Regions from separate parts of the Homo sapiens genome. Here regions 1, 3, 4, 5 and 6 are each linked to region 2. The links come from fine-mapping of genetic effects on plasma protein levels. A gene starts in region 2. Each other region holds a variant in brackets. All regions are shown on one strand. Distances are from middle to middle. Region 1 overlaps LINC01615 (long intergenic non-protein coding RNA 1615). Region 2 holds the start of THBS2 (thrombospondin 2). Region 3 holds the start of THBS2-AS1 (THBS2 antisense RNA 1). Region 4 has its middle 5.9 kb from the start of LINC02544. Region 5 holds the start of LOC124901470 (a long non-coding RNA gene). Region 6 overlaps THBS2 (thrombospondin 2).

The links. PIP is the posterior inclusion probability: the model's chance that the variant is causal. The UK Biobank Pharma Proteomics Project read protein levels with antibody pairs (Olink). The fine-mapping took linkage between variants from a reference panel, not from the people measured, so its PIPs are less certain.
Region 1: its variant is fine-mapped to the plasma level of the THBS2 protein (UK Biobank, PIP 0.93).
Region 3: its variant is fine-mapped to the plasma level of the THBS2 protein (UK Biobank, PIP above 0.99).
Region 4: its variant is fine-mapped to the plasma level of the THBS2 protein (UK Biobank, PIP 0.97).
Region 5: its variant is fine-mapped to the plasma level of the THBS2 protein (UK Biobank, PIP 0.93).
Region 6: its variant is fine-mapped to the plasma level of the THBS2 protein (UK Biobank, PIP 0.99). The variant lies in the coding sequence of THBS2. If it changes the protein, the assay may bind it differently, which can mimic a change of level.

What each region holds. Positions count from the first base shown.
Region 1 is chr6:169,155,515-169,160,586 of GRCh38, reverse strand. LINC01615 (long intergenic non-protein coding RNA 1615) reads left to right here. Exons shown (of 2, transcript NR_132623.1): 2 at 2,131-2,495. Among named protein-coding and RNA genes, the nearest start is that of LINC01615, 4.9 kb to the left of the region's middle. The variant C/T (reference allele first, on the strand shown) is at 2,266.
Region 2 is chr6:169,250,937-169,256,008 of GRCh38, reverse strand. THBS2 (thrombospondin 2) reads left to right here and starts at 2,163. Exons shown (of 22, transcript NM_003247.5): 1 at 2,163-2,285. RefSeq lists enhancers at 2,577-3,088, 3,089-3,601, 4,114-4,627.
Region 3 is chr6:169,212,365-169,217,428 of GRCh38, reverse strand. It overlaps THBS2 (thrombospondin 2), which reads left to right. Exons shown (of 22, transcript NM_003247.5): 22 at 1-1,644. THBS2-AS1 (THBS2 antisense RNA 1) reads right to left here and starts at 4,217. Exons shown (of 3, transcript NR_134621.1): 1 at 3,851-4,217; 2 at 2,942-3,255. RefSeq lists a silencer at 4,129-4,478. The variant G/A (reference allele first, on the strand shown) is at 1,427.
Region 4 is chr6:169,186,132-169,191,203 of GRCh38, reverse strand. No RefSeq gene overlaps it. Among named protein-coding and RNA genes, the nearest start is that of LINC02544, 5.9 kb to the right of the region's middle. RefSeq lists enhancers at 2,365-2,864, 2,865-3,366. The variant C/T (reference allele first, on the strand shown) is at 2,939.
Region 5 is chr6:169,225,113-169,230,184 of GRCh38, reverse strand. THBS2 (thrombospondin 2) reads left to right here. Exons shown (of 22, transcript NM_003247.5): 14 at 506-613; 15 at 1,904-2,063; 16 at 3,887-4,005; 17 at 4,806-5,040. All of the region lies in intron 2 of THBS2-AS1 (THBS2 antisense RNA 1), which reads right to left. It overlaps LOC124901470 (a long non-coding RNA gene), which reads right to left and starts at 4,834. Exons shown (of 2, transcript XR_007059889.1): 1 at 4,521-4,834; 2 at 4,231-4,390. RefSeq lists an enhancer at 4,953-5,072. The variant C/T (reference allele first, on the strand shown) is at 2,381.
Region 6 is chr6:169,219,192-169,224,164 of GRCh38, reverse strand. It overlaps THBS2 (thrombospondin 2), which reads left to right. Exons shown (of 22, transcript NM_003247.5): 18 at 690-917; 19 at 1,697-1,968; 20 at 2,638-2,735; 21 at 3,828-3,967. The region is part of intron 2 of THBS2-AS1 (THBS2 antisense RNA 1); the gene reads right to left. Among named protein-coding and RNA genes, the nearest start is that of THBS2-AS1, 8.5 kb to the right of the region's middle. RefSeq lists an enhancer at 1-132. The variant C/T (reference allele first, on the strand shown) is at 2,660.

The DNA of each region.
Region 1 (5,072 bases), 95 kb after region 2:
CCTTGAAGGCAGCACCCTGCAGATGCACCTGCCCCAGCTTCAGCACCAGCCAGGGCTGGATTTGCATCCTGCCTCTTCTACTGTAACATTTGAAAACATGGCTTTCCCCTCTCAACTGTCAAATCTGGAAAACAGAAGGGCCTGCACGTTAGCCTGCTGCGAGGATCACATGAGAGGCTGAGGAAGCCCCCGTCAGGTGCAGGGCCTGGAACTCGGCCAATTCCTGCTCCTCTGGGCCAGGTTCGGTGGTGTGGCAAAGGGTCCAGCAACACAGGCTCCCCCGGAACCCGTGGGGAATTCTTGCCACGTTGCTGTCCCATGACGGGCAGCTGCTGCTGTGGCTGCTGAGCCGGCAGGCGTCTCCGTTCCACCAGGTCACTCCACCCAGGTCCCTGCTGCTCTGACATCCTTCCAGGCGTGGTCCTCATTGGGTCAAAGCTGCCCGCCACAGCAGCGGGTCCAAATTCCAGTCCACGGGGAGACAGTATTGCTGAGGATTCACTATTTGTAACTCATTCTGCAGCACGAGACCAATGTCTCTTTACACTCTTCTTTGCCCGGCCTTCCGAATGGCTGCCCAGTCTCATTTCCCCAATCATGACGCTTGAGCTCTGAGGCTGGGGATGCTACCCTGCTAGCACCCAGGCATTGAGGAGAAGGAAGGGTCTCGCCACAAGGAAAGTCCATCTTGGCAGGCATGTTTCGTCAATGTTACATTCCTGTTTCTTACACATTTTTTAAAGTCAGGGACTTGCTGGGCTGTGTCCTAGAACACAAGCATTTTCTTCACAAAACTACCCTTTCCTTGGAGTTTCGCTGGGATGTGTTCTCCCGTGGAAATGATGCCGTGGGGGTGGCTTGGTCCCGTCAAGTTCTTACAAAAGCCGCCTTGGCCAAGTGCAACTGGAGGCTCCTCCTCTGCCACAAGTGGTTGTGGAGGTAGTGAAGGAAGAGGCGATACCAGCGGGCTGTGTTGTATTTGCTAAGGACATCGTGCATTGTGGGAAGCTTCACAGACTTGTGTAAAACCAATCAGTGGGCCCTCAGGGAGCCGGTGCCAGCTGTGCCGAAGCATGACCAGGGGATAGTGAGCACCCCACGAAGCCGTTCTGGTGGGAGAGACACCCCAACCCATGGCCTCATCTGCTGACAGTCAGGGCTCCAGCCCAGAGATGCGGCAGGGCCTGCTGGCGGCACAGAACCGCTGGGGTGTCGTCCAGATCCCAAGGCCGTGGCCCCACGCTGGGCCTGGTCTCGGGGGCTCTTCCTCATCAGCTACCTCATCGGGCCCCTGCTACTAGTGAAGGGGATTAATCTACGTGGATCTGTGCATCTGCCTTAATATCATGCAAGAAAACACATTCTTGAGTCAGATGTCAGAACTATTCCTATATTTAACTCGGGGGATGTGGAACATGGCTAATCAACATCACCCTTTCTTTTCGTGAAGGACCGAGATGCCCAAATCCTGGCCCTCCTGCTGGACTTTCATTTTAAAGAACAATAAAATTAATGTTAACTTCTAGCAGCTTCCAAGCTCTGGTAAGGTGATCCAACCCTAAATCCCAGTAGTCACTACTGGAATACGGTGAACCTCTCTCTTTGAAGCCTGGCTTGGCCGTGTGTCACTCCCAGTGGACGGAATGCACTGTCTCTGGTAAAGGGGCGTATCCCATCTCTGCAGGTTTTCAAACACAGGCTAAGGACGTGTCAGAGATACTTTGACGGCGTTAACAGTTCTAGTGAGCCGTGTGCCAAGACAGCCTGGAAAGTTTAGGGGTTCCCGTGCCCTTTTGGGTATAGTTTGCAAACTCTTATGGGCACCCACCAGGAATAAAGGATCCCCAATATCATCCATGGCTTATGGCTGGAAATCCCGAATACATCTACAAAATGGTGACATTGCCGAATAATCTGTCACCCTGGGGAGTTGCCACAAGGAAAAACCCAAGCCGCTCTGTAGCAACATGGTCAGCAGAACAATCACTGAAGGCTGACATGGGGTTTGGAGTGTTACAAACCACACTTGGACTTCTAGGCTGCGATTTTAACTGCCCCTCATCTGAATTCAAGCTTACTTTGTTTTGCATTGTTGAAGCTGATGCCTGTGCTTTTCTTCTTCCTTTGCAGTGGCCCCGGAGAGGGTCAGCGAGGGGCCTCCACTGTCTGAGTCCGCTCCTGGCAACGCCTGCTCTCTGCACTCAGAGGCCCGGTCCCGGCAGCTGCCACGTTGCTCAGAAGTTCTGGCAGGGGGAGCCTGAAACC[C/T]CTGTCTGCTGGCGACACTCCCGGAGCAGCAGGAAATCTCTACATTTTATTTTTTTTCTTAACAGACAAAAGTATTTGACTCCAGAATGATTTCCAGGAATTACAGTATGAGAACTTAGTCTTTGAGATTTTTATTTTCTTCTTAAAAAAATAAAAATGAAATCAAAGCAGAAGACACTGGTTGAGCAGACAGCACACTAGCACATTCCACTTCGCAACAAAACCTGCGTGTTTTCTGCCCGGTCTACCTCAGACAGGGATGGTGGGCTTCATAGCCTTTCCTGTGGAAGGAGTTCAGGGCGGGAGGGAAGTGCTGGGGTAGGAGGGGCAGGCAGAACCTGGAAACTGCGCCCCATTCTTTCTTCTCGGAACTCCATTGCCAGAGGGCTTGGAGTGCTTCTCGGCGATTTGGCATCTGCTTCTCCTCTGCCCCTCATTCAGAGTTCTCATTGCAAGAAAAGCAGGGAAAAGGTTCAAAAAACCCTTCAGACTTGGAGCCGTTCCTCGGTGATAATTGAACCACCAGAGGTGCTGGCAGGGCCATGGCGAGAGGCACCTCTAGGAAATCTCACACAACCCACACTGCTCCCCTCTCCTGCATGGCAGTGACCCTCCCATAAAAGGGTACAGCCTGTTGTGCCAGCTTTGCAACTGGGATCATTGCAGTCTCTGGCTTTTTGACTCCAGGCGGGCTCCGTGCCCTCCGGGGCCTCTTCTTCCTTGTCAGGCCAGTGGGAGCCACAGAGGCCTCATTGGCTTCCTATGAATATTAAATGGGATTCTCTGTGGGGGAAGCTTCCATAAGGCAGGAAGGGGTCCCCGGTTGTTGGCTATTAGTGTTATTTTCTTTTAAATCATCTGTGCTCCTTCAAAGACGACGTAAGAAGCTTGTGCCCTGGCGTTGCAGAAATCTCTGGCTGTAGGGATTAAACCTACATGTCTTCCTGATGGGGTGGTGAGGACGTAAACGGTGAATAGTGCCAGCCACAGGGAGCATTGCAGAGAGTAACCAAGTGTGTGATAAACATGCTGTCATATGTGTGTAAACGGCCAAGAGACCACTGCTTTTGCCTGAGTGACCTCCGCAAGGACACAGAAATAAAACATACAAAAAAGTTGGCACTGAGTGGTCTAGAATCTTCCATCTCTGTTTTTTCTTGGTAGAAACTAGCCTCAAAGAAAACATGTGCTTCAGGTTGACAAGATCTCCAGTCTACCAAGCCTATCTGTCCCTGAGAATTGGTTATCTATTGCAGCATAACCATTCACCTCCAACTTTAGCTGATTAAACAACCCTTTCTCATCTCACACAGTTTCTGGGCTCAGAAGTTGAGAAGCAGCCTAGCTGGCTGACTAGCTGGCTGAGGCTCAGGGGGTCCCTTGGGTCTGCAGTTATCTGAAGACTGGATGGGACTGGAGGTGAGGCTTCCAAGCACACTCCTGCGGCCATCAGAAACCTCAGCTTCCCAAGTGAGTGATCCAGGAGGGCAAGGATTTGCCTGGCAGGAAGCTGCGGCCACTTGTGGCCTGGTCTCAGAAGCCCACACCCCCCTTTTGCCATATTCTGAGCACACAGACCCCAGCATGAGGCAGGCAGGCTGGAGCAGGGAGAGCCACAGCAGGCCAGGACCTGGGAAGACTGTCTTGGACGCCGGCCGTCACTCCCAGATAGCACTATGTGGCTGATTGCATCAAACGACCATCCATGCCTTTCCTGCTTCAAGGATGTGAATCACAAGCCTGGTGAGGAGCCTCTGAAATGCACGAGGGAGGGGTGTGTGTACAGCACCCTGGGAGCCTGTTACCAACAAAGGAAAATGAACCACGGATGCCAGGTCATTCCCAACAGCAGATAGACATGTGATTTCACCCATCTTAAAACAAAACAGAACAGATTCTCCCAACCCATGCTGTCAGTAAGCTACGTCCCCATTGCTCTGCACCCACTCCCATCAGCCGTCACCCCCACCATTTAGTCCATACCACTCTGTGTCTGTGGGGGCAGCACTCGGGTGATCCCGGCGGTGCCTCTCAGTCCCCTTCCACGGGCCTGTCAGCACACAGGGAAACTCCGACAGCGTCTTCAGCTCACTCCTTGCTCTTCACTTGGCCTCTAGGGTCCCGCTCTTTGGTTCTCAGCTGCCTCTGCTAATCCCTCTGTTCCCAGCTTCTGAATATCGAAGGAACCACAGACTCATTCCCGGATTTACTCCTCTTCTCTGTCCACATGGCTTTAAACACCATCCTCACACCTCTGACTCCGAAATTCATACCTCAGGTTCAGACCACTCCCCGACCCCAAAACTCATATAGGGTCTGTCCACCGAACCTCTCCTCTCAGTAGACATGGATAATTCAAAATGTCCAAACTGAGCTCTTGATCTCCCTTTCCAATCCGTCCTCACCTGCAGCCACCCCACCTCAGGTGAGGGCAATGCCGTCCTTTCTGTTGCTTAGGCCGAAAACCTTGAAGAGCCCCTGAATTCTCCCTTATCTTACACATCACATCCAGTCCGTCCAATTACCCTCCTAGTGCATGTCCAGACACACCTCCTTCCCTCCTTGGTGACGCCCTGGTGGAGCCGCCATCACTGCCCACCTGAGTGAGTGCAGTGGCTCTCCCATGGCTGTCCTATTCCTCTCCTTCCTCTCCATGGGGAGTTCCTTCCATCATGAAGGCTGTGCCACCCTGGCTCCTCGCTCCCCCTTGAACACACCCATGGGTGTTCCTGCCTAGAGGCCTCGGCACTGCTTTCCCCTCTTCCTGGAACTCTGTCCCCTGGGATCACCACCTGCCTAATTTCCCC
Region 2 (5,072 bases):
CTTCTGTCTCCTCTAAACAGACTTCCCTGATTCTGGGCTGCCAGATTTTACAGAAGGAGGCCCATCTTCTCTGTACCTGCCCATCGGCACGTGGAGTCATGAATACATACCTTCCTGCTCCCCAGTGAGTGTCACGGTCTTCACCGCATGCTCCTGAAGTGCTGAGCAGCTGAGCTGCCTGTCTTCAGCTTTAATCAGGAAACACGCATTCTGTGGACTGAGGAACAGGAGAGGCCGTGGCACGCAGAGTAGGGGATGCCGCCCTCCATGTTCTGGCCCCAGGAAAAACTAACCTGGAGGCAGAAAAACTCAAACTGATGAATGGATAATTATCCACTGAAAATTCTTTAAGGGGAACTGGTTTATACTTTTTTTGAATTTGAGATAACATCAATCTATTTAAACTACTTTTTAATTCAAATGATGACTTTGTCCCTAATAGCTTAAAAAGCAAAATAACGTACCTTAAACATGACACATACACTCTTGGAGGCTTTTGTCTGTGCATGTGTCGGAAACTGATGTTTGCCAAGTGATAAATAAACAGGTGCCATTAGGAAAAACAGAGGTTTTCACAAATGAAAGCTCCTTCCCTCTCCCACACCCGCTCGCATATCCTCCCTGAAGACAGAGGCCAGAAAGTGAGGCTTGCTCTTCATGGTGCCTGCCGACCTCTGCAGCGCTGGACCCCTGTGGGGGAATGCCAGGAGGCTTAAGAGACACTCCCCTGCCACAGACACAGTAAGGGTTGTGTCCACAGAAATTCGCTTTAATGTTCTCTAACTAGGACTTGACGGATCCATGGCCAGGCTGACAACTCCACACAAACGTGAAGGAACCTGACAGGCAGGTGCCGACATGAAGCAGGTGCAGGTGGCTCCGGGCAAAGCAGCAGCTCCCCAGTCACCATCCACCCCACCTGGGGAAGTAGCACCTCCCCCATCCAAGGTCCACCCCAACCCAGGAGAAGCAGCAGCTCCCCTGTCTGCCATTAACCCTGACCTGGGAGAAACAACACATCCCCAGCCACCTTGCACACTGACCTGGGAGAAACAGCCTCTCCACCATCCACCTTTCACACTGGCCTGGGAGAAGTGGCACCTCCCCCATCCACTGTCCAGCCCAACTTGGGAGAAGCAGCCCCTCCCCCATGTACCATCAACCCCCACCTTAGAGCAGCAGCTTCCCCTTTCCACTGTATACCCTGACCTGGGAGAAGCAGCCCCTCCGCATCCATCGTCCACCCTGACCTCTGAGAAGCGGTGCCCCCCACCCCCATGCAGAGTGCACCCTGATTGCGGGTGATGCCTGAGGTGTGGGAGGGGCGGGGGTTAGCTGCTGCCACTGCTTCTCGTTCTCTCGAGTCCTTGCTCTGTGCCTGCACGTCAGGTTGTTCCTGTGATGGGGCCACGTGCAAGTGTGCACCAAGGGGACTTGGCCGGGTACTGTACGTCCACTGGGACACACCCTTCTACGGGTATTGCACGTCCACTGGGAGACGTCCTTCTAGGGGATCCTCACTGAGCAAATGAAGCAGAATTTGGGTAAAAATGAATTTTCCCAAAGCTGCAGTACAGCTTTTCAGTCCTCTAACTGCCTGAGATAAATGTTGGCAACTTCCTTTTATATTAAATTTCATTTTTGTCACATAATACACTTGATTATTGACCATAATAACTTTATTAATATACAGACTGATTATTGATACTCACCGATGTATTTCATGTGTTATTGAGAGTCACTCATTTGGTTTAGAAAGACCAATATCACATTGAGTAATTCGAAACATATTTAAGGCATAGAACTTGCATTTTTTTCTCTTAAGCAAAATGAGGAGTTCTAGCCAATCTTGCTAGTGTTATTTATAGCATCTTATTTCCTGAGAGAAGACAGGAAAAGTGAGTCCCTGCCTTCCCTCTCTCCGTCTGGCTCCTCCCAGGCCTGTCTGGCAGGGGCCGGGGTGCAGGAGGAGGAGACGGCATCCAGTACAGAGGGGCTGGACTTGGACCCCTGCAGCAGGTACTCGGAGCAAATGGTGAGATCAGAAGGGGGATGATGTCATTCCTTCGAAGGAATGAATTAAACGTGCTTCCTCGTGTGTCTGATTGACAGCCCTGCACAGGAGAAGCGGCATATAAAGCCGCGCTGCCCGGGAGCCGCTCGGCCACGTCCACCGGAGCATCCTGCACTGCAGGGCCGGTCTCTCGCTCCAGCAGAGCCTGCGCCTTTCTGACTCGGTCCGGAACACTGAAACCAGTCATCACTGCATCTTTTTGGCAAACCAGGTACGATTATTTCTTAAACTCAATCAATTATTTAATGGTGCTCTAATTTTAAGAAATTAGAGTTCTCGAACTCTAAGAAGCGGAGAAGAAAAAGGAGCAATTTCGATTCTTAACTTAAGGTGGGTGGTGTATCTATTAACACTAAATGGCAAGTGTTTCTTCACGTGGTGTTTCTACTGCCCGCTTGAAGAGCAAGGCACGTGGCCGCTCCTCAGCTTTTCCTCCGTGGCTGTGCTTTCACCAGCCGGGCACCCCTTCCTCTCTGAGGGTTGTGGCTGCTGCTATTTCAATGTATATACCTGCCTGGGAACCCGGGTAAACGCTTTATGTTTTCAGTTTCCGAAGAAGAAGATTCCACATGAGAGTTTGTTATTGAGGAGAGAATTAGAAACAACTCCCGGAATATCTGAAAAGTAACTGGAGATTAGAGAGAGACTCTGATTGTTAACATCATTATTAGTAGATTAGAGAGAGACTCTGATCGTTAACATTATTAGTAGATTAAAGAGAGACTCTGATTGTTAACATTATTAGTAGATTAAAGAGAGACTCTGATTGTTAACATTATTAGCAGCTGAAAAGTGGTTTTGAACATAACTAGAGAGTATTTGTGGTAAGTCTATGGAAAATCCTGTGACTGCCGGGACACACAGCGACTTTTAACAGTCTTGGGGCAGTTTGCATATGAAAAGCGAGCTGGCAGGTTGCCTGGCTACCACTTAAGGAAGGTGGGTTTGGCTGCCCAGGACTGGGAGCTGAGCACCCAGGAGTCTGGTGTTTAATCAGACTGCTGTTGGTGGTGGACGGCCGGTAAACAATTAGCTCTCTGCAAAGCTATCTTTTACTTTGATTGTTCATACGAAAAGAGTTTTAAAAGACCTTTGCAAATTCAAACTACATTCTGCTGCAGACAGGCACCGAAATCTTTCTTTTGGAAAAACACAAGCATAAACGTGGATGTGTGGCGTGCAGAGGCTGGGGCAGGGGTGAGCGGCACTGGCTCATCCGTGGCTCCATCCATGCATGCCCGGTGTCCCTGGATGGGCTGAGGCCAGGTAGCCTGGCTGCTCATCCTTCCTGTGGGATGGAGCCTCACTGTCCTTTGACAATCCGCAGCAGGGGATGCTTTGTTAGCCTCCTGCTCTTGTAAGAATCTACCTCAAGGCAGAGACAGTAGGATCTGGTTTCGTCAAAGGAGTTTGATTTAGTTTTTCTAACCTGTCCTTATGAAGCTGGGCATCCAGAACTTTCGCATTTACCATCCTGTTCTTGGCTGGCCTCTGCAGGGCCAGCCCCACACAGCTGTCCTTAGGGGACTGCGACGTACCCGGCAGTGTGGGCTGATGAGGTGGGGAGGTGGGAAGAGCCTGCCAAGGCTGTACCTGAGCTGTGTATTCTAACACCGTTCTGTGGTGCTTACTGCATGCAGGTACTGTTCTAAGCTCATGGCCAAGTGTTCGCTCCTGTCATTAAACCCTCTTAAGAGCTCCATAGAAAGGCCCTATCAGCACCACCATTATTACTGCAGCTGCCTCGGGCAGTTAGAGTAGAAAGCGCCCCAGACCCAGAGGCACATTCTGCTCCGGTAACCCATGCCTGTGGCTCGCTGGGCTAAGTCAGCCCCTGGTGAAGTTTCATTTGCCGAATTCATCTCTCATGACAACCCGATGAGGTGGGCATTTTACATGACGCTACGTTTCATTCTACGGATGAGGAAACTGAGACAGAGAAGTTAAGTAAGTTTCCCTAGGTTGCACAGCTGGTGCTCAGCATTGCTCAGCCTGGTGCTGACTCCGGCCGCAGGCCGTGCTGCTTCCGGAGCCAGGACAGATGAAACAATCACCAAGGACCCCTGGGGCGGCACTGGGGGGAGCAGATGGTTTGGGGGGGGGGTCCCAGCAGCAGATGGGTGGGGGGTCTGCAGGTGCTGCCAAGCATTTCTCTTCTTCTGAGGAATGTTTCTCTATTCCTGGAAGGTGAGGATTTCCAGGTTACCAAATGTTGTTTCTGGAGAGGGAGAGTCCTTGGATTAACAATGAGAAGTTAACGGCCTTTGATATTCTAAATATGGGAAGAATTGGGGTCTCAGTCTTCCCTTCAACCTAGAGCAGGGTGTGACCAATTGCTGGAAGGGACCTGGGGAGCCCTGGGACCCTCAGGCTCATGCTCGCCCGGAAGAGGAGAAGCTGAGATCCACAGGGTTAATCGCCCAGCCGGGCTTTGGACCACATCTCCTGACTTCGGGGCCAGCCTCCACTGAGCTGTGCCAACTTAAAATCCCCAAGAATGGAAAAACAGGCCTGCAGGAAAATAAAGAGGCAGGGTCAAAATGATGGCTAAGTCAAGTGTTCTGTTGTTTTGTAAGTATAATTCACCAAATTAAGTTTATTTGTAACTTTTTTTTACAGTTGATATTCATTCTATTTAATTAGGTTATGCATAACTGTTTTTTGCTGGATATTTACACAAAATGCGTTCACAGATTATTTTTGTCAGGCTGGATATTTTTCTAAATTCAAACTTTCTACATCTAAGTCCTGTCTACGAGTCGTATGAACAGAATTACTCCAGGCAAGCGCTGAACTTGCCCATCTTCCATTTGCTCATCTGTAAAATGAGGACAATTAGAGCAGCACATACCTCCCAGGCTATTATGAAGATGAAATAATAGGAATATTTAGAACGTGATGTGCAGTGCTTGCCGGCAAATGCTAGCTCAACAAATCTTATAGTTAGAAGAATCCTGCTTGAAGAGTAAATTTCCTCCTTCGCTCTCAGTTTGCCACA
Region 3 (5,064 bases), 39 kb after region 2:
ATTAAGCATGAAAAATATTGCTGAACTACTTTTGGTGCTTAAAGTTGTCACTATTCTTGAATTAGAGTTGCTCTACAATGACACACAAATCCCATTAAATAAATTATAAACAAGGGTCAATTCAAATTTGAAGTAATGTTTTAGTAAGGAGAGATTAGAAGACAACAGGCATAGCAAATGACATAAGCTACCGATTAACTAATCGGAACATGTAAAACAGTTACAAAAATAAACGAACTCTCCTCTTGTCCTACAATGAAAGCCCTCATGTGCAGTAGAGATGCAGTTTCATCAAAGAACAAACATCCTTGCAAATGGGTGTGACGCGGTTCCAGATGTGGATTTGGCAAAACCTCATTTAAGTAAAAGGTTAGCAGAGCAAAGTGCGGTGCTTTAGCTGCTGCTTGTGCCGCTGTGGCGTCGGGGAGGCTCCTGCCTGAGCTTCCTTCCCCAGCTTTGCTGCCTGAGAGGAACCAGAGCAGACGCACAGGCCGGAAAAGGCGCATCTAACGCGTATCTAGGCTTTGGTAACTGCGGACAAGTTGCTTTTACCTGATTTGATGATACATTTCATTAAGGTTCCAGTTATAAATATTTTGTTAATATTTATTAAGTGACTATAGAATGCAACTCCATTTACCAGTAACTTATTTTAAATATGCCTAGTAACACATATGTAGTATAATTTCTAGAAACAAACATCTAATAAGTATATAATCCTGTGAAAATATGAGGCTTGATAATATTAGGTTGTCACGATGAAGCATGCTAGAAGCTGTAACAGAATACATAGAGAATAATGAGGAGTTTATGATGGAACCTTAAATATATAATGTTGCCAGCGATTTTAGTTCAATATTTGTTACTGTTATCTATCTGCTGTATATGGAATTCTTTTAATTCAAACGCTGAAAAGAATCAGCATTTAGTCTTGCCAGGCACACCCAATAATCAGTCATGTGTAATATGCACAAGTTTGTTTTTGTTTTTGTTTTTTTTGTTGGTTGGTTTGTTTTTTTGCTTTAAGTTGCATGATCTTTCTGCAGGAAATAGTCACTCATCCCACTCCACATAAGGGGTTTAGTAAGAGAAGTCTGTCTGTCTGATGATGGATAGGGGGCAAATCTTTTTCCCCTTTCTGTTAATAGTCATCACATTTCTATGCCAAACAGGAACAATCCATAACTTTAGTCTTAATGTACACATTGCATTTTGATAAAATTAATTTTGTTGTTTCCTTTGAGGTTGATCGTTGTGTTGTTGTTTTGCTGCACTTTTTACTTTTTTGCGTGTGGAGCTGTATTCCCGAGACCAACGAAGCGTTGGGATACTTCATTAAATGTAGCGACTGTCAACAGCGTGCAGGTTTTCTGTTTCTGTGTTGTGGGGTCAACCGTACAATGGTGTGGGAGTGACGATGATGTGA[G/A]TATTTAGAATGTACCATATTTTTTGTAAATTATTTATGTTTTTCTAAACAAATTTATCGTATAGGTTGATGAAACGTCATGTGTTTTGCCAAAGACTGTAAATATTTATTTATGTGTTCACATGGTCAAAATTTCACCACTGAAACCCTGCACTTAGCTAGAACCTCATTTTTAAAGATTAACAACAGGAAATAAATTGTAAAAAAGGTTTTCTATACATGATCTCTCTCCCTTTTTTAAAAAGAACTAGCAGGGTTTCTACCGGGGTGGGGGAAAGGGGTAGAAGGAATTGGCATTTTGCTTCCTGTCATGTAAGTAGGCCTGTGGTGTGATCACGGGCTATCTCCTCGCAAGTCACAGGTTAAAATGCAGGCTGAAGGGCCTGGTGGAGAAGGAAGCCCTGCTTGACACAGGTCTCTGTTCTGCTGAGCCTCCCAGCACGGTGTGGGATACAACCATTTAGCAATTCATCTCTCCTGCCTCTGCTCATTGTCAAACGAGGGAACAGAACTTCGTAGGGAATTTGGCAAACATGATTGAAATGATTCCGAAAAAGGCAACAGCACACGGGACCCTCTCCCTAATACGAGCTGTTCTTCCCTCTTGACTCATTCTTCTGAGTCAGGTGGAGGGAAGTAGCGGACCCCAGAGGAAGGGCCCATTTCCAACCACAGCACTGCCTAAAAATGGGCCGATCGGGCTCACCAGTTGGAGGAGGCAATGGCAGCAGCACAGAACGCTGGGGTTTCTTTAGCAGCTCCAGCTGCTCTTGTTGGGATTTCTGAATATTATGCAGGCAGACACAGAGAAGAAAAACAGGGAGAGAGGGAGAGAGGGCATCCAGAGAGAAAGGGGAAGAGAGGGAGGGAGAGAGGGAGAGAGGGCATCCAGAGAGAAAGGGGAAGAGAGGGAGGGAGAGAGGGAGAGAGGGCATCCAGAGAGAAAGGGGAAGAGAGGGAGGGATGGGGGAGAGAGAAAGAGACAAAGAGACAGAGGGAAAGAGGGGGAGTTGGGGGAGGGAGGAAAAGAGAGCAAGATGAATAAAAACAAGTATACTTGGCTGAAACACGCTGGAGTGAGTCAGACAGTGAAGCAATAAGATATAGGAAAGGCCGTCTGAGGCAACGGGCTGTGAACTGAAGGCCCTGGCTTTGAGTTGTGAAATGAGTGAGTTTTAGTTCATCAATATGGAGGAAAAAGCTAGACCTACATGTGTAAAAAGAAAAGTTTAGAAACAAAATAATGATGGCAGTGATAGTGGCTGGTCTATGGACAGCTACTGGAGGAAGCTCAATGTACATTTTACTCATGAAACAAAAAATACATATAATATGTTGAATAAGGATGCTTAGAAGTCAGGCATTAAAATGAGATACATTTCTCCTGCATTCAGGTTTTGCTGTCATTTATCGAAAAGTTGAGGTTTCCTGACAATCATGTTCCCTGTCGATGGCCTTAGCCACATCAGAATGGTTGTCTCCCAGGATTAATGTGTGGTGCCTTTGTGAGCTCACCTGGGAGGAAGGTGTCCCTGGACCTCGATGACTCCGTGCGAGCACCTGCCCTGTGGCCCTCCATCTCCCTTCTGCGAATCGCTGCCAGCACACCACGGGAGCTCCGCACCTTCCACCGTGGACCGGGAGGGCCGTCGTTCTAGACGCTGATGCTGCTGCTCACAGGGAAAGGTTCGGCCCAGGCCCACGCTCTGAGAGTTGTCTGTACAAGGCTCAACCAACTCGCCCTCAGGGCAGGCACAGGCCTTGGTCGTGTGGAACGAGTCGGTGGGTGAAATAACACATCTTCACTCCCAAGTATCCAAGCGTGGGATCTGTGATTGCCGGGAGGAGAGAAGCCTTCATACCGTGACCAACTCACTGGCTGCTGCGTGTCCCAGCTATAGGCTACATGGGGGCAGAGGGCTCCTTCCGTCATTCCTGGAGGACCAAAATCTTAGGCCAGCTTTGCTCAGTCTGCGTTTCACAAAGTGATGCTTTTGACCATGGAGCAAGTGGTGCCTAGGCCTTGAGGAACGCAGGTGTGGGGTGATCCAGGAGCTGCCACTCCAGCTCCACGGCCACAGCCCTGTGGGCTGCCAATGCCCAAATGGGAGGGCCCTGCTGAGGGCTATCACCCACACGAGGCCCTTAGCCCAGGGCAGGTACCTGCACTGATGCTTCCCACCCTCTTAGTAAAGTCCTTCTGGAGCCACCAGCCTGGGGGCCCAGGGGAGGGGCTGAAGCAAGCTGGGACACTCCTGCTTCGCCCGGGTGTCAGCCCTGTGCCCAGGGGAGTGAGCTGCGGGCCCAGAGCAGCTTGCGGCCCACGCAGCCGGCGTTAGCCTTGGGGACCACGTGGGCATTTGTGAGAGAGGTCCGGGCCCGTGCCCCCCACCCCGTGCAGTCCCACAGGGGCCCCTGACTCACCCTTCCCCAGCCCTTGCTCAGCGGTCCGGCCCCTCTGGCTCCCCTGAGTCTGCGCTTGGCCCCTTGCGGGTGGGGTGAGCGCGGAGCCTCGGCTGTCCCTGCCTCGTGGCCCACCCAGGGCGCCCGCCGCCCCTGCAGCAGTAGCAGGACCTACTGCCAGCTTCTCAGTTCCTGTCTCGGCCTTTTTCAGGCCGTTGAAGACTTTTGCCACTTTTCTGACTTTTTTTTTTTTTTTTTTTTTACCACATAAGGGCTTTTTCAACCCCAAAGCACATCAAATGCAGGATGGGAAGTGATATTCGACTTTCCGGCCTCCAGCGCACACCCCTGACGCGCGCGGACTGCAGGGCTTGGGTCGGGGCGTCCCTGGGAAGCTCAGCCGGTTCAGCCCCGGCGAGCCCCGCCCGCGCGCGTCCCCGAGAGCCGGAGGCCCCGCCGAGCGCATGCCCAGCCCTCCCTGCGCGCCTGCGCCCTCCCTGCGCCCTCTCCTGGGCCCTGACTGTGCTTGAATGACAGCTTCACTGCAGGGTAACCCGGAACCTTCAAAAGGCCGATTCTGCAAACAAAATGGTGTAGAAAGAGGAAGAAAGCATTAGTGCAACAAAACTCGATTGCGCTTCGTTTTATGTACGATTTATTTACTTTTAAAATATTTTTTCTGTTTTTAGATTTATTTTTCTACTGAAAAATTGTTTAGTTATCTTGAGGTGGGACAGAATTCTTCATACGACTTTTCCCATTTAAAAATGTAATTATTTTTAAATATGGCTTTAGGAATAAATTACAGTTGTTAAAATGGAGATACATATTATTTATATTTATGTATTGATTATTGAATGGTATATACGCAAGCAACATACACGTGACTATACATATGCATCATGAATACACAAACCTCCCTTGTCTCAGGCCATACTTATTCTGGATTTTAAAGAAGTGGAAAAGTTGGCAAAGTGTCAGAGAACAAGATCAACACATGGAAATCAGTTGTGCGTCTGTATACCAGACAGAAACAATTTAAAACGGAAGTTAAAAGTACAATACCATTTGCAATAACATACAAAACAATAAAATACCTCGTAATAAATGTAACTTGGGAGGCAGAAGACTTGTACTATGAAAACAGAAAAACAATGCCAAAATAAATTAAAACCTATATAAATGGAAAGACACCCTCGTGTATAGTTTGGAAGATTTAATTCTAATTCATTATA
Region 4 (5,072 bases), 65 kb after region 2:
CTATTATGTAATGAGAGGCACAGGGTTGGGACACGCGCTGTAGGTCTGTGTGACTCCAAATCATTCAGCTCTCTGGAAACTCAGTTTTCTCATCTGTGCGGCAGGTCTGCAGAGACAGGGTGAGAATTTCAGGAGGCCCACAGTGGGTGACCAGTGTGATGGCTTTTCTGTCCTCCCTTCGCTGAATTCCTCTTGGTATGCTAACAACTCCACACTGACTGTTATCAGGGCCACATTGGGGTTTCAGAGACCGTATCTACTGTTTTATGGCCAGAAGTAGAAATTTTTGAGTTATGTTAGGTCCATTTTAGTTGTAGCCACTTTTGTGTAGCTTTTTTTGAGTTTGGGTTTCTCTTATAGTTTAATATGCTGCAAGTTTTACACATTTTAATAACATTAAGTTATGCAGTATTAAACTTTTCATAGTGTTCTGCATATTTTCTTTTAGTTTTAAAATTGAAATAGTCTTCAACATTTTAAATCCAGAATTCTTATTCAGGGAAAGCTCCAAACCCAGAAATAACTATTACATTTTGTGCCAACATATGAAATAAAAATATTTCTTTGAAAAAAATTAGCAAATCATTTGTGGTTCTCTTAATGGCTAGTAAGAATATGTCTAGCTTTTACTTGATTATGAAATGGAAAATTGCAACACTTGCCTTAAATAAGTAATATAAATTTTGCCAGACACTAAGATCCCAAATTTCCCAGAAAAGCTCGATAACGATGACCCAAGGCAGGAAGAACTCAGATTCCTACGGTTGGGCTGCTTTTGGCTGCACACAGGGCTCCCACAGGCATGTCTGGCGCGGTGCTGAGGTCCACTGATGGGGGAGAGGGAACTGCCCGGGGGAAGGGCCGGGAGGTGCAGGGCTTTGTTTGGGACTGGTGCAAATCAGGGCCCGGGAGACACTGGGCAGGACCAGAGCATTCATGTCTGAGCTTCAGGGCTTGGGAAGCTGGAGATGGGGCAGCCCCAAGCTTGATGCTCAGCCTGTCCTAGGAAGCCTTGCTGTGTGTGTGGGAGGGTGGGGTTGAGTATTATGAAGGTGGATGAATCCCACAGTGAGGGAGTAACTGCATGTGGCCTTAGAAAATATTTTGAAGTCAAATAATCATGAAAATGTATTAATTCACTCACTCAACCCTTCTGCCATATTTTGTTCATGCCTGTGGCATCCCAGAGACTCTCTAGGTAGGGGGCTGTGGTGTTGACAATGCAGGCTAAGGCCCTGCCTGGTGGCTCTGAGGCTCACAGGTCCTGAGGAGTGAGGAGGATGTGAATAGAGTAGGGACGAATTCAGGGCTCAGGATTTGGTACTTTCCCAGAAACTCTTTTACAGAGAAGCATTCCAACATTTGGCAAACAACGACAACATTCGACAACCACAAGGGAAGGCCACACAGGAGCGTGGTGCTCCGGCTTGGGGACGTAACGGGTCCCACAGAGCTGCTTTTATTAACGATAAGGAATTTCACACCCCTGTGTTTGCCCATGAGAAGCAGAATATTGTCTGATGTGCTGAGTATCACACACATATTTTGATCCTCTTAACTAATTATTTGAATAATGAAGCCCAGAAAATGAAAGGAGTAAATAAATTCCACCTTGCAAAAAATACAATTTTGCAGTTTACAAAGTGTTCCAGTGAAGCTATGGGATCCCAAATCAACTCCTGCACCCCTGCGCTCCCTAGCCCAGGAGCTGATGCTCTGCCCAGCACACCCCACCCGCGGCTCAGCTGCCATTGTGAGTGTCTCTTTGCCCTCGGTGATGAGTGCAGCACCTGCCTTTCTGTGTAAGCTACGCTGAAGTGCCCAGTAGGATTTCTGTGAGAGGGAAATATGCAAAACCCCATTGATGTCTATTCCCAGTGATCGAGAAGGAAAAAGGCTCACTGTTCCAGGAGGCTGCACAAGTTTTTCTGTCACCTTAATTGATGTGTGTCTAGTGTAACATTTCCAACAGACAAAAAATATGGGAAACGTTGCACTTTCTTCGTTCTAGCCCCACAATGTATACCATGTGCTACTGTGAAACAGAACTTCTGTGAAAGGACTCCTGGCTGGGCGTGGTAGCTCATGTCTATAATCCCAGCACTTTGGGAGGCTGAGGCAGGTGGGTCACCTGAGGTTAGGAGTTCAAGACCAGCCTGACCAATATAGTGAAACCCGGTCTCTACTAAAAATACAAAAATCAGCCAGGTGTGGTGGTGCATGCCTGTTATCCCAGCTACTTAGGAGGCTGAGACAGGAGAATTATTTGAACCTGGGAGGTGGAGGTTGCAGTGAGCTGAGATGGCACCACTGCACTCCAGCCTGGGTGACACAATGAGACTCCATCTCCAAAAAAAAAAAAACCTCTGTGAAAGGACTCCTAAGCAGGTGCTCAAGGAAAACAAGCTCGCCCCTTACTTTGCAGCTGCCGAGTGAGTCAGCGACTCACACCATTGTCTGAGCCTCTGGTTTAAAAGCTGAGGTTTACCGTGAATTATGACGTCACCAGAGTCCATGTGGTTTTGATATTTATAAGTAAAATTCTCAAAATGTGAGCTTCCTTGGTGTCATGCTTTGCTGTCGCTGGGGACCCTTGTGGGTAGCACTGCAGGGAACAGCTGCAAACCCACTGCTCACCTGTCTCCAGACTGAGCTGTCAGTCTTCCTCTGGCATTCTCCCTCCCTCCCCTCCAATCCAGCCAGTCTCCAAGGCCTCCTGGGACACTGGGGCTCAGTTTCCTTCCCTCCAACCCCATGGCCACTCTGCAGCTTGGGGCAGAGGCAGTGGGCTTCCCGCTCCCAGGCCTACTTCCCTCCATTCTCTACCAGCAGCTGGAGGGATCTTCTGAAAACAAAGCTCTGAGTGTCTTCTCACCTCCTCAAAACCCTTCAAAACCTCATGTGACTCAGAGAGCACCTACAGCGGTCCCCAACACCC[C/T]GGCAGCACCTCCTCACTCACTGTTGCTGGAGGCAGCCTCACCAGCAGGCCTCGTTCATCTCCGTGAGTGTCCAGAGACGCCCCCTCGCCCCATGCTGTCTGCTCTGGATGGTGGAGGCTCTTCCCTCTCCAGAGCTCTCCTCTGTGTGGAGGTCGGGCAGCTGTGGGAGGCACCAGCCACGTGCTGTCCATGGCTGGTGGCCTTCTACTGGGGACAGGGATGGGGGACAGGGGGATGGGGGACAGTGACAGGGGGGACGGGGAGCGGGGGGACAGGGTGACAGCCTGCCCGCAGCTTTGCGGTCATTTGCAGGGTTTACATTTGCTCGACTCTTTTGACTTTTTAAATCTTTTTTAAGTGCATGGCTGTGTTGGGTTCACAATTATTTGAATAAACAATCGTTCAATTAGTTTAGTTTTATCCAGTTGTTGCCTATCAGTGGATGTGTGATCTAACACAAGCTTATACAAGGAGAATTTGCTCTTCGTTACTGTGTTAACAGTATTTCTTCTACTTATAAATAGATTAATCCAGTAAAATGTAGAGAGGCGAGAGAGAGCTGAAACTAAGGTCTGCTGAGTGTTTAACTTGAACACGCTCTTATTTGGTGGCTACTTTTAAACAACTCCAGAAATTTAATAAATTACTCTGGATAAAAGGTTGCTTCCTGTTTCTAAGGAGCTGTCCCTCTTTAGATCAACATTTAAACTTACATTAAGATGTATACTTCTTGGGGTAATTTAAAGTTGAGCTGAGATTCTCTTCTGGATAAGCAGGATCACCAGGTCGGGATGGCTTTTCTCTGCTCTTGGTTCTGCTCACGTTTTGCCACATTGGAGAGTTTGTTCTTGCAACCGTCCATAAGTAACTTGTCTGCTTTCAGAGGTTTTAGCTAAATTTCTCTTCATAAAATCATTCTAGCAAATTTATTATGCAAATGGTATAAGGGATTAGCTTTGCTTTTTTTTGTACTTTAAATTATTCTGTCATCTTTCTCTTACAGTACGTGTCCCGTAGCACCTAAATAAATTTCTATCTCTTATACCTTTTGTTGTGAATACATGTTTTGGTCTAAATACATATAATTGCTAAGTTTTGTTGATTTGGGACTAGTTTGTGTTCAGAGTGGTGGAGTCAATGTGAAGTCTCCCGGGTGTGAGCAGGTGCCGTGCAGAGGCTGCACGGGGCTTCCCCGGACCTGCTCTCCAGGATGCCCACCTCGTCAGGCTCACCCCCACCACACCTGAGCTTCTGTCCGTGGAGGTGGTTGAGGCGGCTGGTGGGTGGCGTGTGTGTGGTCATGGCCCTGTTCAGTTACGCTGTCTGTTCTTAACTTCTGCCACATCCTCCTTTGGCCTTTAATTTCGTAAAGGTTGTTGTGGGTGGAATGTTCTGTGGTCCATTTCTTTCCACCTCAGAGCTACCCCTGGACCTGATGTTTTTGTGTAAATGCTGGTGCTCACTCTGCGGCCATCGTAGGGTTTGCTGAAGATGGTGGCGTGTGGCCGGGTCAGCAGCAGCCGGTGGGGGCTTCAGGGTTTGTTGATGGCACAGTGGGCTCCTCCGAGGAAGCGAAGCGCTGCCCTCAGTCCCGGCTGCTGCTGGCGGCACTCGGGCCGGTGACTGCTCATTTTATTGAGCTCATGGCAAGGCGTAGGGGGTGGCTGACCGCAGCCTGGGTCTTAGCTGTCATGCTCAGAACACACTAAAGTCACTTTCACAGTTTGTTTTTATTTTAGCGGTAGCTTTTCATGGCTTAGTTGGGGTTTAACTTTATTTGTGTATAAACTTAAGCACGCTTTACACTGGGCTTTATTAATTTGGGTTAAGCCTATGGCCATGGTGGCCGGCACGAAATTTACCAACCCTAAGGAAAATGACTGTAGCTTCTCACACTTCTGCTTTACCACCACATCTCTACCTCCGCTGTTTCCCGCAGGGCCGTGGCGGAGTGGGGAGCTAGGAGCTGCTCCTGAGTGAGCCTACGGCCCGTTGCTTTGGGTCTCCTGCGAACCTAGAGGCCTCCGTGCAGGAACACAGGTACCTGGATGCGTGGCCTCGCAAAGAACTCATGAGGAGGCCAAGACCAGGCTGTGTGCTGATGGTGTTGCATGAACTCAGGCTTGGTCAGTG
Region 5 (5,072 bases), 26 kb after region 2:
CTGAGTTAGCAGATAATTTCAAGTTCTCAGCCCTGGTTTCTGAACATATCACATACATATTTGAAAGACTCTTTTCTTTGAGATTTTTTGACTGGTGAGGGTTAAACGTTTATAAGCTTTGGCATTTTGATTTATGAGCTGAAGTCTGTGGGAAGGAAAGCACCACTAAAGCCTCTTTTCTCTCCCATGTTCTCTCAGAGCAATACCTTGTCATTCTCTTCTTGTTTCTGCAGTTGTTTGGCAACCTCACTGGGATTCTGGGCTCCGAACACAAGTTTCTTTTGTCTCCCTCGTGAGTAGTGGTGACATAATTTCCAGGGCAGGAGTTGAGAAGAAATTCATGCGCTTCTGGCCTCCTGGCTCCTCTCTCAGCTCCCGCTTGAGATCGAGGACTGATGGGGCACGCTTCCTTCCTCGGCGCCATGCTGGTTTCATTTCACCTGCATTCCTGAAAGAGGCGCTTTCCTAAATGTTTTTCCAAGTATTCTTCCTTCTCCAATTGCAGGATAACTGCCCCCATCTGCCAAATTCTGGGCAGGAAGACTTTGACAAGGACGGGATTGGCGATGCCTGTGATGATGACGATGACAATGACGGTGTGACCGATGAGAAGGTAGGAGCAGCTTGTGCCGCGCACCTGCCCTGGGTTCCAGGAGCAGCGAGGTCCACAGGAGGCCACTTTATACCAAACAGCCCTTGTCAACGTAACTGCCATTGTCCTGCAAGCGTTTGTGCATAGGCAGTTCCCAAAGGTCACTATAAAGACAGTCCTTTGCAAAAGCGGATTTTACCTCAGTGCATGGGGCTGCCCAGGGTGTGCTGCCGGAAATGTTTTGAATAATTTTTTCTATTTTAACTGCAAAAAAATAGAAGACCTCCTCTCCTTCTGCTGAGGAGCCAGTGATGGGCAAGGCTGACACCACCATGAGTGATAGACTTGCCTTTATGGCAACATTTAAAATATTACCATTTTTCTAAGAAAATTGCTGCAAACACAAATGGTTTAATGTATTTGTACACAAAACAGCTCTAGCAAGAATAGATCAAGATTTTACTCACTGCTTTTTTACATCTGACTTTGATGGGAGACATTGACTCACTAATCCATTCATTTATTTGATATTTACATATCTCTCCTCACCATGAAGTGTATGATATACCATTTTTGCCTTAGCAATCTACAAATTTTCAACAAAAGACAGATGCATAAATAATGATAAAATGATTTGATATGGAAAAAGTGTTTGGCGAGGGCTAACTCTTTTTTTTTTTTTTTTTGGTCGCTCAGGCTTGAGTGCAATGGCATGATCTTGGCTCACTGCAATCTCCATCTTCTGGGTTCAAGCGATTCTCTTGCCTCAGTCTCCTGAGTAACTGGCATTACAGGCGCACACCACCACGCCCGGCTCATTTTTGTATTTTTAGGAGAGATGGGGTTTCACCATGTTGGCCAGGCTGGTCTCGAACTCCTGACCTCAGGTGACCCGCCTGCCTTGGCCTCCCAAAGTGCTGGGATTAATGGTGTGAGCCACTGTGCCCGGGCCTAACTGGCTTTTTAAAGCACTGGGATTAAAGGTGTGAGCCACTGCGCCCGGCCCTGGTCTTGAACTCCTGACCTCAGGTGATCCGCCCGCCTCAGCCTCCCATAGTGCTGGGATTAAAGGTGTGAGCCTCCGTGCCCTGCCCTGACTGGCTTTTTGAAGTGCTGGGATTACAGGTGTGAGCCACAGTGCCCAGCTGTGATTAAAGGTGTGAGCCACCGTCCAGCCCTAACTGGCTTTTGTGTTTGTTTGATTTCTATATTGATTTTCATCAACCTTGAGTACATAACTTATAAGTGCTAAACGGCCCGACACACATTCCTATGATCTTCGTTAAAGTCTTCCCTTTCTTGGTTTTCCAGGACAACTGCCAGCTCCTCTTCAATCCCCGCCAGGCTGACTATGACAAGGATGAGGTTGGGGACCGCTGTGACAACTGCCCTTACGTGCACAACCCTGCCCAGATCGACACAGACAACAATGGAGAGGGTGACGCCTGCTCCGTGGACATTGATGGGGACGGTGGGTGCTTCTGCTCCTTCCCATGCGTGCACTTTTTTTTTTTTTTTGAGATGGAGTTTCACTATTGTTGCCCAGGGCAGTAGCACCATCTTGGCTCACTGCGATCTCCACCTTTTGGGTTCAAGTGAGTCTCCTGCTTCAGCCTCCTGAGTAGCTGGGATCACAGGTGCACACCACCACGCCTAGCTAATTTTGTATTTTAAGTAGAGACGAGGTTTCACCATGTTGGCCAGGCTGGTCTCAAGCTCCTGACCTCAAATGATCCGCCTGCCTTGGCCTCCCAAAGTGCTGGGATTACAGGCGTGAGCCACCGCGCC[C/T]GGCCCAATGCATGCATTTTAAGGGTCGCAATTGGAGGCATTGGCAAGTTTCATGTTTTATTCTGAATTTTGATAAGCTCCTTTCATTTTTACACTACTATAAGATTAAATGATTCATTCAGTTATTCCCATAGGGACCCATGCTTATTCTGCCTTGCCTTTTCCTGAAGGTCAGGGGACACCAGCCACAGGACCGCCCTAGAGAAAGCTATGCATTTGGTATCCTCCTCTCTCTGACCCCAGCCTTGCAGTCCTGGGCCTCGTGCTTCTTCATGGCATCTTTTCTAATGTTCACCCTTCATTCAAAAATTCCAAGAAGCCATTTCATGTTTTCATCAAACTGAGCTTCTAGGAGTTAGAATAACGTGGGTGTATTGTGGTTACCTCTGCCACTGATCCCGGTTGCTGCTTTATCCGGAGAGTTCGCTGGCCTTGGTAAGCGAGCTCTGCAACCCAGTGCCACTGTCACCGCATGGTCATCCCTTCTCTTGGGGTGCCTGGAGACCAGGCGAGTGCTTCTGTAGAACCAGCAAGAGCTGGGGGCAGGCTCGCCTCCACGCTGGAGCTCGGCCCCAGCTCCTCCACACTTCGCCTCGTGGGGTCCTCTTCCCAGCCCGGCGCCAGCCACCCCCTTTCTGAGCCACCCCAACCTGCTGTTCTGTCTCACAGCGGGTTTCTCAGTCTGATCTTTTCCACTGATTTCTGCCTCCACCCTCCTCTCGTTCTCTGGGAATGTGGTGGGTTGCTGTCTGAGGGCTCGTGGTGGCCAGGGGGCTCCTCGGCTCCCCATCCAGGATGGCGTCTGTGATGTGCTGGATGCAGATCTCAAGCTCCAGTCCCTTCCATTTTTATTTTTTAGGTGTTCCTTACTTCCCTTCTCCAGACCTCACCTGACCAAAGCAAGGCGAGCGTCTCAGCTCAGTTCTGGCTCTTCCTGTGGACTCGCTGCCGTGTAACATTTTGCTCTGTCATTTGTGACACTGTCACTGATGGTATTGTTTAGTTCAGTGCTAGTTTATATTTTTGTAACTTCAGTATCAATGCAACTCATCACTTTCAGATTTCTTAAGATAAGATATGACATCTAAAAACCCTGCCACTCTCTGCCATTGTTTTTTTCCTACTCATGTGCATGGATGATAAACTCCTGGGAACTCAACACATACTTTCCAAGTGGGTATTAGGGAGAAATAAGCAATTTAGCAAGCTCAGATTTACACGGCGACAGCACATTCAACTACCCCTCCTGCAACATTACCCAGAAATCTCCAAAAGTTGGTTCTATTTCAAATGAAAGGTATTTGAACTGTAATGAAATATGTCATATGTTCTTCTAAAATCTAATAGTCTTTATATTTTACTATATTCTTAGGCGTCTTTTTATTATAATTAAATAGAAGTGTGGCTGTAAGCAATTTCGTGTGATAGGAAAAACAATGTGCTTTTTCTAAACTCACCTGTCCTTCTGGTTTGTTTTTGTTTTCTTCCCCCTTTAAACACTTACAGATGTCTTCAATGAACGAGACAATTGTCCCTACGTCTACAACACTGACCAGAGGGACACGGATGGTGACGGTGTGGGGGATCACTGTGACAACTGCCCCCTGGTGCACAACCCTGACCAGGTGAGGGCAGCCGCAGACAGGCGGGGTTGGAGGTCCTCATCAGAGGGACGCGGGGACGGTGGCGGTGTGGGGGATCACTGTGACAACTGCCCCTGGTGCACAACCCTGACCAGATGAGGGCAGCCATGGGCAGGCGGGTCTCAGGTCCTCATCAGTCCCCTCCATGGGGCCTTGGGAGTTTTCCATGAGCTCCACAAAGACAGGATAACATGGAGTTTTCAATGATTTCAATTGAAAACATTTATTCAACTCAAATCTCAGCACTATTCTTGTATCTCAGTGGCCACAGGCCAAATGAATAGACGCCTTCACCTCATCAGCTGGAGCGAGGTTGTGTCTTCACAGAATTCTCTCCCCATTTTCCTGATGCCAACATAGGAATTGGCTTCATTTCCAGGTTTGCGTTTGAAAGAGACAAGGGAGGACAGTTATCTTGATGCAGCTCATAGGATATATTATCCTATGATGTAAATGGTGTAAATGGCGCAAATGGTGTAAAAAAGAGACATAATTACCTGGTAGTTCATGCTTTTCCAGCGAAGAAGCACATCTTCCTTTAGTGAAGTGAATTACTGTGGAGAGGTGGCAGAGGGTGGAGAGATTCCTGGACCGAGAGGCCTGGCCCCAGTGCTTGTCCTGACGTCAGGGTCAGTGTGACCTCGGGCCAGCCGCCCCTGCGTGGCCCTGGGGCTTGTGCTGCAGGACGAGGAGGCCGGCTCTCAGGCTTGCGTCCTGCTGGTTCCTCTCCACCTCCTCAAACTGGCAGTCCTCTGCTGTTTCTCTCACGCCCCATCCCCTAGACCGACGTGGACAATGACCTTGTTGGGGACCAGTGTGACAACAACGAGGACATAGATGACGACGGCCACCAGAACAACCAGGACAACTGCCCCTACATCTCCAACGCCAACCAGGCTGACCATGACAGAGACGGCCAGGGCGACGCCTGTGACCCTGATGATGACAACGATGGCGTCCCCGATGACAGGGACAACTGCCGGCTTGTGTTCAACCCAGACCAGGAGGACTTGGACGGTGGGTGCTCTCTCAGCTCATGGGCGTGGAGG
Region 6 (4,973 bases), 32 kb after region 2:
TCAATCCAACTTGCCTTTCCTCCAAAACGGCAGGCCACGTGATAGCTAATTCAGTACATTGCAATCTGCCTGTCAGGTTATCGTCATCGCCGTAGACTGATAGACTGGACACATGTGGCAAATTCGTGGTCCCCCTGTTTGCACCAGGCCCACCTCATCCCCACTCCCCACCATGCCACAACCCCGCTGAAAACTTGACAAGGACCCACTAAACAGCGGAAGTCCATGTCTCCCTAGGAAAAACCATTTTAGTGTGAGTTCCGCTTTAATGCCAAATAGACTATAAAAGGCAAGGATGACTAAGAAAAGTAATAACAGACATTCAGAAAACTATCCAAACACAAAGCTGGAAATGCAGGTTGATATTACTTGACAGCCATTCAGGTTTTATACCTGCAGCATTGAGTTTGGAACACGGTGAGAAATGGCTTTATGTGAATTTGCTGTGCTGGCCTTTGCTGTGTATTTATCACAAAAATTTTGTGAAAAGAGTTGAGGTTCCTGTGAAGTCAAATGTTTTGGAGATTGTTGAGCACGAATCCACAAAACACTGCAAAGCACTCAGTCTTAGATGTTCTGGGAAAGATGCACTCATGTTTCTCAGACACGGAAAAGCAAATGGCAAACCACCGACCACCGACTTTGCTTCTTTGTTTTTGTTTTTGTTTTTGCTTGTTCTTTGTGCATAGGTGATGGACGGGGTGATATTTGTAAAGATGATTTTGACAATGACAACATCCCAGATATTGATGATGTGTGTCCTGAAAACAATGCCATCAGTGAGACAGACTTCAGGAACTTCCAGATGGTCCCCTTGGATCCCAAAGGGACCACCCAAATTGATCCCAACTGGGTCATTCGCCATCAAGGCAAGGAGCTGGTTCAGACAGCCAACTCGGACCCCGGCATCGCTGTAGGTGAGTCTCTGAGACACGGCGGTGGTGCCAGCATTTCTCCGGGGGAGGCGCCCACAGAAGATGCAGACTGCACTTTAAGATCATGCAGGTGGGATGCCATGTGGTCTTTCTGGAAGCCCCCATCCTTCCATGGTCTGTGAAACTGTCTGCCTAAATAACCTTGACAGGTACATGCACCTGCCGCTCTGAAGTCTCTGAAATTTCAGTAAACCATTTTATTTTATAGACTTGGTCTATGAAATGGGACCTCATAATCCTCTCAGAACTCTTGTAAGTTGGATCTAAAAGAAATACCTTCAATTCCACTAATCTCATGGTAAAAGAGCCCATCGGGATGATGAGGGGAGCCCGCCCTGCCTGCTGGGCATCCACTGTCAGATGGTCACAGGGCCAAGCTGGGGATTGCCTGAAACCTGTTTCTTTTTTTTTTCTTTTTTTTCTTTTTTTTTTTTTGAGATGGAGTCTTGCTCTTGTCCCCCAGGCTGGAGTATAGTGGTACAATCTCAGTTCACTGCAACCTTTTTTCCCCGGTTCAAGTGATTCTCCTGCCTCAGCCTCCTGAGTAGCTGGGATTACAGGTACCCACCACCATGCCCGGCTAATTTTTGCATTTTTAGTAGAGACAAGGTTTCACCATATTGGTCAGACCAGTCTCGAACTCTTGACCTCAGGTGATCTGCCCACCTCGGCCTCTCAAAGTGCTGGGATTACAGGCATGAGTCACTACTCCCGGCCACCTGAAAGGTGTTTCTAACGAAACCTTATGGCGTTGCATCCAGGTTTTGACGAGTTTGGGTCTGTGGACTTCAGTGGCACATTCTACGTAAACACTGACCGGGACGACGACTATGCCGGCTTCGTCTTTGGTTACCAGTCAAGCAGCCGCTTCTATGTGGTGATGTGGAAGCAGGTGACGCAGACCTACTGGGAGGACCAGCCCACGCGGGCCTATGGCTACTCCGGCGTGTCCCTCAAGGTGGTGAACTCCACCACGGGGACGGGCGAGCACCTGAGGAACGCGCTGTGGCACACGGGGAACACGCCGGGGCAGGTGAGGTTGGCTGGCCAGGCCCACACATCTCCTCTGCACCACTGTGGCTGCAGAGTGTTTCAGCAGGACTAGCCCAGTCCAGAGACCCCACTTTTGTCTTTATTAATTTTAACTCCAGGCACAGTTATTTTAATAATCTTACTTTATTATAGACACTGTGCCTGGGGTTACAACTCAACACAGTTGATAATTACCAGTTAAATACAGTTGCTAATCCTTTTACAAATTAAACCTCTTTTACCCTCTTCTGGAGATAGGGAGTGAGCATAGGACATAATGATCAAAGATATAATATGAAAAAAATATTTTAAAAATTGAAGCTAGGGAGAATTGAATATCAAAACTTCAAGAATTTTGCCCAACATCCCATATCAAGGAAAGAGAAGATCCAGACATGAACCCAGGAATCTGAGGATCAGGTGCCTGGGCTCTTCAATCCAGGAATCTGAGGGTCAGGTGCCTTGGCTCTCAGCCCTGAGCCACACTCTGTCCATGGGCTTCAATCCACAGTAGAGATTTGGATGATAAACACATCAGAGAGATATGGAGCACCATGAGCCTTAAGCATGAACTTGCAAAGTCATGTTTTTGCTTCCTGCTTGGTGTTACAGAGCTGTGGTTAAGGCTCCGGGTGCCCATGGCACTCAAGAGTGCTATGTTCTCTCTCAGGTGCGAACCTTATGGCACGACC[C/T]CAGGAACATTGGCTGGAAGGACTACACGGCCTATAGGTGGCACCTGACTCACAGGCCCAAGACTGGCTACATCAGGTGAGGGCAGGTCAGCACAGCTGCATTTCTTCCAAGGGGCTTCCCATCGGACGGCACATTTGAACATTAATAGACAAATAAGCTCAAGTGAATTCTAACTTTTTGTTTTACTCTGGATTCTTCGTCATTAACTGCTTTCTCTTTTCTATCCTGCATCTCTACTAAATATTAAGTATTTTTAAAAAATGGTTGAAAAGGAGAATATACAATCTGCTTTGTTTTGGGATGATAACCATATTTTCTCCTAATGAATACCCCAGGCAGGGGAGAACACCTGCAATTAAAATAACTGCATCTTTGCAGAATTAGCATGTGCTTTATTGGAGACTAGATTTGTACCTGATATAAATGGCTGAATTTAAAACACGGTTGTATGAAGTTTTGACACAGTTAGCCCAACAGAATCTTTTCCCTTGGCTTAACAGTATTTATAATTGATTTTTATTCAAACAAAATGTGGTCAATTTAAAATCAAGGTGTTTTTGTTTTTTCAAAGTTAATAAGCACCAAGATCAGGCTGGACTCTGCACAGATGCCAGGAGTGTGTGAGTCCCTGGCAATAGAGGGCAGATCTGTGTGGGTGAAGTGCAGGCTCGTGGCCTCGCTGGAACGTTTCCCTAGGGGGCCTCCTGTTTATTCATATTGATGCCCCATCCTCCTGTCGGGGGCTTGGTGTATCCAGTCCTGCTCCCACGCAGCTTCCACAGTGGGGAGGAGAGCCGGTGAGCTCATGGTTTTAGCACAAGGTGAAGTAGGGAGAGTCCGGTGCATCTTCCCAGGAAGTGGGAAGCTTCCTCCTCACCCCACCAAAGGTAGAGTCTCCTCTAAAGCCCTTGCCTGGGTGACTGTAAGTGAACTCACAGATTGTGACAATAGTGTGGTTGCAAGAAGGAAGGCGTGCCCTGGATCAGTGCTGCACCAGGGGTGGCTGGAGCTCCAAAGGAGAAAGCCAGCAATGCCCCCTGGGGCACTGAAGCCCTGGGCGGAGTATCCACAGCTTGTGTCCGGAGCCAACCTTCCATCACTGGTGAATGCTTCACAGAGTTCATGTTGTCTTTCTTTCCTCTTCTTCTTTTTAAACACCATTTTTAGAGTCTTAGTGCATGAAGGAAAACAGGTCATGGCAGACTCAGGACCTATCTATGACCAAACCTACGCTGGCGGGCGGCTGGGTCTATTTGTCTTCTCTCAAGAAATGGTCTATTTCTCAGACCTCAAGTACGAATGCAGAGGTGAGTGTGAGCACTTCAGGTTAGTGGGGAAGGCATGTGGCACCCAGAAAGGGAAAGGGGTACACAGTGCGCTCTTCCACTTACAAAAGCTGTACATCAGGGCAATAAACCTAATGCACAATACCACACATGAGCCCCCTGCACATTCCAAGCAGCCATTTCATTTGGTCAGCTTGGATTGTTTTGTTTTTAATTGCATTTGGATGCCTCTGGTAGAACACTTTCCAATTATTTACAGGTCCCACCCATCCTCATTGTGCCATAGCCTAGAGTTTCCTAGATTTCCTCCACTTCCAGGCTCCTGACGCCATTTTAGATTGGTACCCTTGCATTAGCAATGGCAGGCAGGCAGGAAGGAAAGAAGGAAGGAAGGAGTTTCTCTATAGTTATCTCGCTACAGGTATATTTGAATCAAAATATTATAGACCTGGAAGATAACTTGAATTCCATCTGCTCTAATTCCATGCCTTCAAATGCGCATTACCCTTCCACAGATGCAGTAAATAAGGCTCAGGATGCTTCTCAAGAATCACACATTGAAAATCATGTGTTTGGCTGGGGGCAGTGGCTCATGCCTGTAATCCTAGCCCTTTGGGAGGCCAAGGCGGGTGGATCCCCTGAGGTCAGGAGTTCGAGACCAGCCTGGCCAACAGGGCAAAACCCTGTTGGGGTTGATTTATCTGCTTGCTTCTGTGGAGGTTTTCTTCTCCTTATGTTAGGATGTCTTTCAAGGCATCTCATTTCCTCCCATCCATCCATATCATTCATCCACCCACCCATATATCTCATCCATCCACCCATCCATCCATCCATTCATCCACCCATCTCATCCATTCACCCAACCATCCATCCATCCACCCACCCACACACCCACCCATCTCATCCATCCAACCACCCATCCACCCAACTATCTCATCCATCCATCCATCCACCCACCCATCCACCTATCCATCTAATCCATCCACCCACCCACCCACTCATCCATTTCATCCATCCATCCACCCAC